2 separate regions of the Homo sapiens genome follow, and region 2 is linked to region 1. Evidence: fine-mapped expression QTL. A gene starts in region 1. The other region holds a variant in brackets. All regions are shown on one strand. Distances are between the middles of the regions.

Region 1 (5,384 bases):
TTTTTCAGGAAATACAGTCTAGATATTTCAAAGATAATTATTTCTGAATGTTTTATTCATATGTTCTCTTCTAAAAGTTGAGAAATTCTTTTATTGTTTAAATAAATTGGTAAGTAAACAAAGACAGACATTTAAAAACTTGGTTTAACCGTCTCCTTTTATTATGAGATGGGAAGGAAGATTATGCCTAGCTGCTTGCCTGACATCCTTATCACAGAAATGGATCAAAGAAAAAAACAAAAAAGAAGAAATATTAGGTGAAACAATGCCAGATACCATCAAGATTACTACAAACGGCCAAGCACGGTGGCTCAGTCTGTAATCCCAGCACTTTGAGAGGCCAAAGCAGAAGGATCGCTTGAGGCCAGGAGTTGGAGACCAGCCGTCTATACGAAAAATTAAAAAGTGAGACCACCATCTCTACAAAAAATAAAAATTTTAGCTAGGCGCAGTCGTGCCCACCTGTAGTCCCGGCTACTACGGAGCCTGGGGTGGGAGGATCACTTGAACCCAAAGAATTTGTTTTTGTGTGTCTTTATTTCCTAAATTCTGTGAGAAGAATAGATTTTTATTTCAAACATTATCTGATATTGGCTTCCAATTTCCCAAGTAGTTTCTCTATTGTTACTGCTGAGCCTGTGAATTTACAATGTTCCACACCACTCCGAAGTTACTAGACAATAAATTAATCGATGAACGCTTTAAAAAGTTGGACTGCTTTAATAAAAAAAAAAAAAACTGGGTCACATGTTCCAACAGAATTCCCTCTTTTAGAGAACTAATTTTACAAAATAATTCAGAGTGGAAGACAAGACACGATGGAATGCTATTTTTGATAATGAGTAGCAGAAAAAAGACCAGAGAATAACACACCCACTGCTACTTTGTTTATACGGTTGTAACTTGCACATGCAAGTACTCTACATAAAGTATTGCACAAGAAGAAACTGTCAAAAATGAATGCTTATGAAAACATTCTTCACTAAGGCCTCTAACAAGGAATGTGCTATCTCTGATTTCCTCGGCAAGTATTGACAGATTAAGCAGAGTGATAATGCTCAAGATGAAAAGACGTCTTATACTAGTTTTTATCAATAGTAAAAGCTGTTGGTACTAATTATAATGGCTGTAAATTCAGTAGCAGAATCAACTTTACAGACGATATCTCCTAGGCAGCACAGCATTTTATAAAACCAACTTTACTTCCATCAAAACCCTTTTTCCCCCCCAATCCGACAGACCCTGGCAACCTGTCTTGCTGTGTCTTTTTTCCCCTACCCTTCCAAAAGAACCCCAGCCAGTGAATCGAAGTAATATTTTCCGCAGTTCAAAGGTAAGGGCAAACTCAGCTCTACTAAGAACTCTTGCTCCTCACCAGCACACACCCTAACCCCCACCCCCTTTTTTTTCTTTTCAAATCTTGGCCTAGGAAAGATTAATGCTCCCATATCATTGCAAATCCACAAAAATGCGATTTTAGGTGGCGAGGAACTAAACTAGGATGGCAGGAAAGACCGGCAGCAATAAATCATTTCGCCCTAGAAACCAGCCTCTCCAGAACGCAGGAAACCAGGCTGTGCCCAAAGAACCTGCCGCCCGGAAGCAACAACTTCCATCAAACGGCAAATAAAAGTTGCAAAGAAGAGCTCAGCGCCCAGGCACCCTGCCCGGTGCCGAGGCTGAGAGCAGCAGGCAATCTACAGGCCGAGTCAGCTCGCGGGCGGTGGCCGCGGTGTCCGCAGGGCTGGCTCCGGCTCCGGAAGACTCCGGGTCCCGGGGTACGCCAACGGCCCGGGGCTGCGCGGGCACAGCGCCCGCACCCCTCCCCAGGACCGCGAGCAGTGGGCGGAGAGACCAGAGCAAGGGAAAAGGCGGACAATGCCCGGCTGGGCTGGCGCGCTCCGCCGGTCCCCGCCAGCCCTGCCCGCCGGGGCCCGCCAGCCGCCGCGCTAAGTTTGCTCCTCAGCCCTCCCTTCCCAGCCGAGGCGGCGGAGCCGTGGTCGCCGGTCTTCCTCCACCTCTGCCACCGCCTTCCTTCCCGCGGGGCGGCTCCCGCGAGTCGGTGGCGAGGCGGCGCGCGACCAGAGCAGGACGCGCGAGAAGGCGGCGCGCGAGGGGTACCCGGGCGCGCGCGAGAAGAGCCAGGCACTGGAGGGGAAGGGGACGTGCGGGAGAGACGGGCGCGCGGCGCTGCCGGCGGAACCGCCGGAGCTCGGGCGGGCTTTCGGTTGAGGCTGGGGTTGCGCCGCGGTTTGGTGTCCGTTACGAGCGCCGGCCCGGGCCGCGCCGCGCCGCTTGCCAGCCATCCTGGACCGCCTTCCCTCGGCGCCCACCAGGAAGGACAGCTGGCGAGGGCCGACGACCTCGTCTCCCGCCCAGGCTGGGCTGCCGGCGGCGGGCATCCCGGCGCCTGCCCCGGGGCTGGAAGAGAAAGTAAAATGAAGCGCCTTTCCCCAGTCAACACCTACCCGTTCCCAGTCCTAGTACAGCTGCCTCGCTCCTCCAGCGCCGCCGGTCCCCGCCCTCGGGCCCCTGGCTCCGTTCTCTTGACAATGGCGCGTCCCCTTTAAGGAATAATCCGATCGGAACCGATCTGTGGTTAAACCTCCCTCCGACTCTGATTTTAACCGGATTTCTCTCTCGCTCTCTCCCAGAGCCCGACGGGCGCCCGGCTGTGCTGCGAGGTCTTCCCACCCCTTCCCTACCCCGCCCGCCCCCTGGCCTTCCTGATTGGCGAGAAACACTACAACAGGAACAGCAGTCCTCGCCCTCCACTGGCCTGGCCAGCCGCCGCTCAAAGTTGCTCCTACCTTCTCCCCGCCCCTTTTCCCGGGTTGGTCTTCCCTCTAATCATTCTCTGCCCTCGCCTCTAACGTTGCTTTGGAGCCCTGGCAGTCAAGGCTCACCCTCCCGCCTCCGGAAAGCGAACTTTATTTTTATTGGTGAAAGGACATCTTCCTGTACACTTGATTGGGCAAGGAAAGAGCTAGTCTGCACGCTCCCTACCATTATTACTCTCTCTTTACGGGCTTGAGAAACACAGCCGCAAAGTCCTCTCCGCTTTGCCTTCTAGGAGCGACTTTACCTTTAAATGTTGTTAGGGGTCGAGGACAAACTCATATCCTATATTGAGGAAAGCTGGAAAGGGACAAGAGAAAAATTCAAAATTTTCTCCCGATCAGTAATGTATCCAGAGCTGGCGCCCGGATCCTGCGGAACCTTATCCAATGATCCAGAGAATGGAATGGTTAGAATTGAGTTAGAATACCTGAAAGTCCAGTGCTAATTCCTCCTGAGATTTACTCAACAAGTTTCATCCACTGTCCGCCCTACTCATACCATTGATTGCACTGGCATTTTGCCACCCGGAAGAGCTTTAATCAAGTTATCTGCAAACCTGGAGGTTTCCTTGCTTGTCTCGCAATTGTTCATTTAGAAAATCATTTCCATTACAAGTTCCGTTTAAGTCACGTCCTCTGTGACGTTCCCGCGTTTCCACGAGACCTGTTACTTTTTTGAAAAAATTAAGTAGATGGTACCCTTATGCCATCCTCAAAGTGTAGGACTTCGTTCCCCCTTGCTAGAACTGTAGGAAAAACACCCCAGGTCACTTGAACAACTGAGATGCCTCTCAGGAGAAAACGAGTCTGTCTAAGGGAAAGAGGGAATCTGATACCAGAAGCTTGACCATGGAGCAGAACCTCACGCATTGAAAAGAGAAGAAATTATGGGGAAGCCTAGTGCGGGGTCTGCTTTAGAGTTTCCCCAGTTTCCCACTGGAGCTGTAAGAACTAAAAGGTTTATTTCCACTAAAATTGAGTACAGGTACAGCTTCGGTACCCATCTAAGAATGTTAGGGGAAAATGGTTATGTGTTCTCTCCCTCTTTGCCGATGAACCTTGAAGACTGTGTACCCCGGGGGCTTTAGTACATTTGCAGTGATACCCCAGTATAATCTAATGGTGCCAAGGAAGTGTCAGTGCTCAGCAGTACCCTAGAAAAGGGGCTTGATGATGACAGAGAAGGGTAAGTAAACATCAGTAGTTGGTAGTTCATAGGACTTTTCCCCAAATACAGGTGAAAAATTTCATGAGGATTCCCGAAAATATGAAAGAGCAGGAAACAAAAGGGAACGTTGCAGGAAGGTGGTTTAGGTATCACTAGTGGGGGCAAGAGACGATGAACTATCTGGGTTGCATTTATATGGCCTTCACAGATACACACATCCTCCCTATTAAGTCCCTATAACTAAATCCCTATGCTTAGCCTATTCTGATTTTACTGTATAATAAAACTGCAGCCAAGCTAAACTAATACTTCTGGTTTACTCACTTACCACTCTCAAACTCTGAGACTGCTTCTGGGTTCTAATATTCTACATTAGAATATAAGAAGAAGAAGATACTATGTACTGATATCTAGTATGATCTTCTGGAGATAAAGATATCCAGTGTTTCAGGCATGTACACACCTGCAGCTTTTGTTCAAGGTCTAAGTGATGTTTTCAGGTTCTTTCTAAAACACCTGCCCTATGATATCCAGCTTGTTACTGCCCTCTTTTGCTGCACTAGCAGACTGGGCATATAAACTAGAGAAGGCAGTCTACAGTAACCTCTAGATTCTCTTACTTGCATTGAACCAACTATGCTGAGATTATCACCTTTCAAGTATAATTTGTGTTATTCTTTTCTCTAAATATTTCATATTTGCCCACAATAGGATCATTTATCACTTTTTAGCCCACACATGCAACTTCCTGGTACTAATACTCCTACTGGCATTTCACAGCAAAGAAGAATTTTAAAAATCTACAAACCTGGAGCTTACAACGTAGAGGTTATTCTTAAGAATGTTCAGTGTTGATGAACACAGCCCCAGTTCTAACCCTGGAGAATTTTACAAGTTGTACTTTCTCATTCAGAGAGACTTTATCTCTCTACCTTAGTTTCTCATTCTAAGCCCAATCCCCACTCTTTAAAAAAAGAATATTTCTCGGCTGGGTGCAGTGGCTCACGCCTGTAATCCCAGCACTTTGGGAGGCCAAGGCAGGTGGATGACTTGAGGCCAGGAGTTCAAGACCAGCCTGGGCAACATGGCGAAACCCCATCTCTGCAAAAAATACAAAAATTAGCTGGTGGGAATGGTCACAGGCCTGTGATCCCAGCTACTGGGGAGGCTGAGGCAGGAGAATCACTTGAACCCGAAAGGCGAAGGTTGCAGTGAGCCAAGATTGCACCACTGTACTCCAGCCTGGGCGACAGAGTCTCACTCTGTCACACACACACACACACACACACACACACACACACACACCCTTCTCCAATGTGCTAATGTAAATAAAGCTTTTTAAATTATTGTATATAGATGTTTGTTAAAGTCTTTTA
Region 2 (5,384 bases), 260 kb before region 1:
CTGTTAAAGTTCAAATATGTACAAGAGTCAGCCTAACAAGAACACAATAGTGTTTTATCACCTTACAAAAATAATAAGATCTGATACCTAGATTAGATCTAATAACTACATTAATTTGATGAACAGTGACAAAATGTAGCATTTCCTAATATTTACCAAGGAATAAAAAAAGCACATATGGCAGAGCTATAGCAATTACATTTTTAAAAAGTATAATAATCTTTAAAAAAAACACTAATACTTACTTATTTTTGGTCAGTCATTAGCTTCAAATCTGGCTTACTTCTCACAGGCCTTTCCAAAAAACATAATACTAGTGGTTCCAAAGTCTTTTTAAAAGATTTCATTTAACAACTGCTAAAAACCACAGCTGGCCTGAGGTTTTAATCCCAATCACAGCACCAATCACATAAACCCAACACAAAGCAAAAAGAGAAGAAAAAACCAAAGCGGTCCTTCTAAGAAAATACAGTGCAATAGATGATGCTCGCCAACCCCAGAGAAGCGTCTGTACATTAACCTCATCATGTTCTGCAATGCAAACTGCTCATTAAAAACACTCAAGATTATTTTTAACCTGTAGGTCATTTCCTTAATCTACCAACTTAAGAAAAAATCAGATTTGACTATTTCATTTAAAATAACTCAACAGGTTAGAAATACTGGAAACAAATCAACTTCAAAACTTTTTTGAAAGAAAAGCGGGAGCTATAAAAGAGTGCTAAAAAGAGCCCAGATTGGCCATGCACCAGCCTCCATTTCTCCCCACCTCAGGCAGCCGGCTGTTAGCATTATCTAGAGAAGCCTCCAAAGTTGGGGTCTCATCCCTGATTTGAAGCACTTCCTCTGTTGTGATGCTGCCAGTGGAATCTTCAGACTGGAGAAGTAAGTCAGGATGGTCTGGTATTGTTTCATCAGTGGCAGAATCACTGTTTAACTAAAAAGAGAAAGAGTAAAATAAGGAATTCATTTATGAGTCAAAAGCCACAGGAAACATTCTCTATCATAAAATATTTTAGGGGCTTCGTTATAAAGAGCTTCTGAGATTTCCTAAAATCATCTTTCTTTCCTTCCAGTCTACACCAGAATGGGTGTTGTTAGGGTAAGCAGCTAATCCCTCGGTAGAACTAAGTACACATTAATACAGGCTAAATTTTGCTAAACAAAAACTATCAAAGTGGAAGAGCTCTATGTAACTATGTTAACCTTGAGCTGAAATTCATATTGGAGCTGAATTCATATTCATTCATGGAGGACGAAGATTTATGTGGCACGGTTAAGTGAATGGGCACTAGAGACAGACTGCTTGATTCACATCTACTTACTAGCTATGTGTCCTGGGATAAGACATGTAATATGCAGATCTGCAATAACCATACTTGCCTTGTGTTAGGAGGAGAGTTATGGTAACTAATACACGTAAAACACCTTGAACAGGGCCGGGTGCATCGTAGACAGTCAGTAAGTGGTAACGTATTATGGCTGCCATTAGCAGCAGCGGTTGGTCATTGAACACTTAAATGGGAGAGGGGCAGTTAGTGGAAAGACAAACTGGGGCACCAATGAGATGTAAATACAGGAGAGATGACTGGACACCAACCACAAACCGACAACTTGACATTGTGCCTAAAGCAGCTCAGGCCCTTCCATTCAACATCACTGCCAGCACTTTACCAGCAGGCCGAGTGGAGCAAATGGATCTAAATTAAAGGTAGGTGGCTGGGTGCGGTGGCTCATGCCTGTGATCCTGCCACTTTGGGAGGCCGAGGTGGGAGGATCACTTGAGGCCAGGAGTTCAAGACTAACCTGGGCCACATAGCAAGACCCCATCTCTACAAAAAATTTAAAAAAATTAGCTGTGCATATGTGGCATGCACCTGTAGTCCTAGCTGCTTGAGAAGCTGAGGCAAGAGGATCACTTGAGACCTGGAGTTTAAGAATACAGTGAGCTATGGTTGTGCCACTGCACTCCAGCCTGGGTGATGGTGTGAGACCCTGTGCCTAAAGAATAAAAAAAGGAGGCATTCCTGTAAGAGCTGTGTAACCATAGCTGGTGCCTGGTCTCCACTGGTTTCTTCCTTATCACATGTACCAGGGTAGCTATTCCATGTGCCTTCTCCTTCTTTACAGTGCCATCTTCAAGTTCCAGCCCTACCACTGGCTTTTCTTGCACCCGTACTCTTCTGAAATAACAGGCTACTCTTGCAGCTTTCATTTTCCACTGACTCTACTTGATCTCGAAAGGGACCAAACTTGTGCTCTGTTTTTCCACACTATGCTAACTAGGAAAGAAAAGTGAGTGGTGAATTAAATGGTGTTGGTGCTCACATTGATACCAAAAATATGTTATCACTGAAGGCCTCTAATAGGGCCCAAAACAACTCACTGTGACTAGGAAAGAAGCAAGAGAAATTATATTTTAGCAGCTAATAGGTGTGCAGTATCAACCTAATAAGTTTAGTGCTGTCATGAATAACAACACGGTACTCCATTAGTGTTGCAATCTTGTAGATTCATTTCAGTGTGTGCATTTCACCCATGCACAAGAAATAATCATTAAGAAGTTGGAAGTTAAGAGGAAAATGAGACCAAATGTCACTGTAAGAAAAGTGAATTGTATACCATCTGTGTGCGTGAGAGTATCTGGCTTGCTGTAAGTGCCGCTTCTTCTTCCGAGGACTCATCTGTATCCTCCTGATTGGTGAGGTTCAGGCTGGGGGTGCTACTAGAGCACTGGTACTCCTGGAGGGATGGAGTGTCCCCTTTGTCAATACTGTCCAGTGAGCGCCTGCGAACTCCCCAGTTGAAATTGTCCATACTTTCACCCTGGAAAAGCAAGACACGATTTCTAAAACCTCAAATACATGCTTCTAAATGTACTAAATGTAATATACCAGAAAAACATATACCAAGATGAAAAATACTTAATGCATCATTAAAAGCAGAGTTTCAATCAGCCCTTCAATTTCTTTAAACT[G/C]TTAACACACCATCAAATATTTATATTTAAAAAGATCAAAATTATTTGGTTGACAACCTGTTTTAACGAAATAATTTTCTTGACTTTCTATCTTGTATTACTGGGGACCAAGTAAATCTACTATCTAAGCCATTTCTATTCTAATACACAAACATGAATGAGACCACAAAGAAGACAAATACATCACAGATGACAACAAATAAACAATCCATAACACCAGGCTGCAACTTACCTGCAGCTCCTGGTTAGCAAAAAGGAAAACACACAGAATTAGAAAAAAACGAAGACAAACATTTAAATATACACTACACTTTTGGGGCAAACTCTTTGTGATTTCTCAAACCCAAAGACTGATTCAAGCTCTGGATTAAGCTTTGTGCAGAAAGTCAACATGTGATTCAAATCTTTTTTTATGCAAAATATGTTGTGAAAAAGTCAGAGACAGACACTTAAAACAACATTTCTATGATACACTTTGGCAACACAAACTTTAAGAAAATCTTCAAGATTTACAAAGGTTTAATACTTAGTACAATGCAAAAACTGACTTTAAATACCCACATGCACTTGACAACATACAAGGTCACAATTATTTCAGTTGGTAGGATAGCTCTGGCTAAATTCAATGGTCATTTTTTGCTACAAAATATAATTTAAAATCAAGATCACAGCCATCAAAACATAACTGTTGCCAATTTTAAAAGGTCAAGAGGAAATATGACAAATTTCAATTTCTCCCACTTAAGGATTTATATAAGTTATGTTTCTGTTATTCTAAGCTGCTCCTCCTTTTGTAAGGATATAATCCCTACAATTTTTCTTAGGCCCTGATATGACAAACTATATTGAGCTGGCTACCAAAATATGATTTTTTTTTTCTGTATCCCTTTACACAGGAATTGTCCAGATTAGAAGTTTTCAAATCTTTTTTTTTTTTTTGAAAGCAGAAGAATACTTATTTCAAATGAAATTTTAGATGGCAGTCAATTGTGCAAAACAGAAAACCAGAGCTGCTCTGGTTGAAGGTGTCCAGGAACTTGGCCCATTGGATCTTTGAATCTGTCCCGGCTGTTTCTGAAGATATCTTGGAAGCCCTAGGGCCCTGCATGTCAGAGTTTGAAAACCACCTTCCTGGAACATATCATTTCAAATATTATTATGTACCAAAACACATAATGGCAACAGCACTCAATATATATTTGGTGAGTGAATGAATATGCACTGTGGGCTTTCAAAGTGAGGAGATATTTTATTATAATTTTCATTAGTGGTTAAGTTTGTTTTGTAGCAATCAAAGTATTTCCTATTACCATGTTTTAAACAAGACTATATCCAGGTTTTAGAAAATGTGTATCGCTGATTTGGCGTAATTATGAGGGATAAATTAGCGTGCTCCACCCCACCCCTGATTACTGTGACTTGAATTAAAGACAGAACTACAAATGAACATCCTTAGTCCATTCTAAGGTTCTATTAAAAGCCATGTTTATTACCACTGACATTTTAGAGCACTGAATGAACTTGAAAGCATTTACAGTTCTCTTTAAACAAGAGGCAAACAAAAAGAAAAATAACCTTACCATTACAAAAATGTCAAGAGCTGCCTTTAGAAATTTAAATTCTGGACTGAAAAAAGCAACTAACTACAGAAGAGTTTAGAAGCTGCTCCTGGCCTTGGGTAGGGCAGCAGGTCTCTTTAACCTATTCCACTCCGTTACTTGGTTGTGCAAGTCTGTTCTATTTCCTACAATATATTTTTTCAAATGATGAGTGTGAAACTAATTTTAGGGTGGTAACCTACACTTTTTGAAAAAAAAAAAAAAAGAATGAAAAGGAAGAGAATAGAAAATATCAGTATGCACAGCATAGAGTTTGGATGCATATTCTTGCAACTTTTATTTTTAAAGGTATATATATATATATATATATATATATATATATACACACACTTGGATGTGATGTAAAATGTATTAACTGTGGATTAGTGTCAAAAAAAAGTTTAAAAGCTACTGCTCTGAAAGGTGCTAAATAATACCTGTTCTTGAGTTCCTATGAACCTGTACAATTGTGTCTTTGGGAAAATGTAAATGGTGGAGTATTCCATAGGAGCCTACACAGCTCCTAAACTGACATGAAGGCATTTGCATTACTTGGAGGCACCATGGTCACATCCTCACATCTGCAGGGGGCACTGAGGCATGTTGAGGAGAGGGAACTTTACTTCCTCAAACTGGTCTTCCATGGACAATGAACAGTGTGATACGGGAGAGTGCATTACATTTCATTCCTCCGCCTCACCTATTAGAGCCAAAGGAAACACCCCTACAAGAAGAGCTGATGAATGTGTATAAGCTGTATATGAGTTGTATATGTATATGTACATGAGAGTTGATCAGTGTGTATGATC

Alleles and levels. Positions count from the first base shown, and alleles are read on the strand shown. Sizes are in standard deviations (SD) of each study's normalised expression.
In carriers of allele G in region 2, the expression in stomach of the gene that starts at base 2,670 in region 1 tends to be lower than with C alone (moderate effect, 0.55 SD a copy in GTEx).

What was found.
Region 2: its variant is fine-mapped to the expression of FRYL in stomach (GTEx, PIP 0.99).

What each region holds. Positions count from the first base shown.
Region 1 is chr4:48,777,610-48,782,993 of GRCh38, forward strand. It overlaps FRYL (FRY like transcription coactivator), which reads right to left and starts at 2,670. Exons shown (of 64, transcript NM_015030.2): 1 at 2,469-2,670. RefSeq lists silencers at 1,636-2,515, 2,606-2,715.
Region 2 is chr4:48,520,279-48,525,662 of GRCh38, forward strand. It overlaps FRYL (FRY like transcription coactivator), which reads right to left. Exons shown (of 64, transcript NM_015030.2): 54 at 2,623-2,826; 55 at 770-937. Among named protein-coding and RNA genes, the nearest start is that of ZAR1, 33 kb to the left of the region's middle. The variant G/C (reference allele first, on the strand shown) is at 2,978.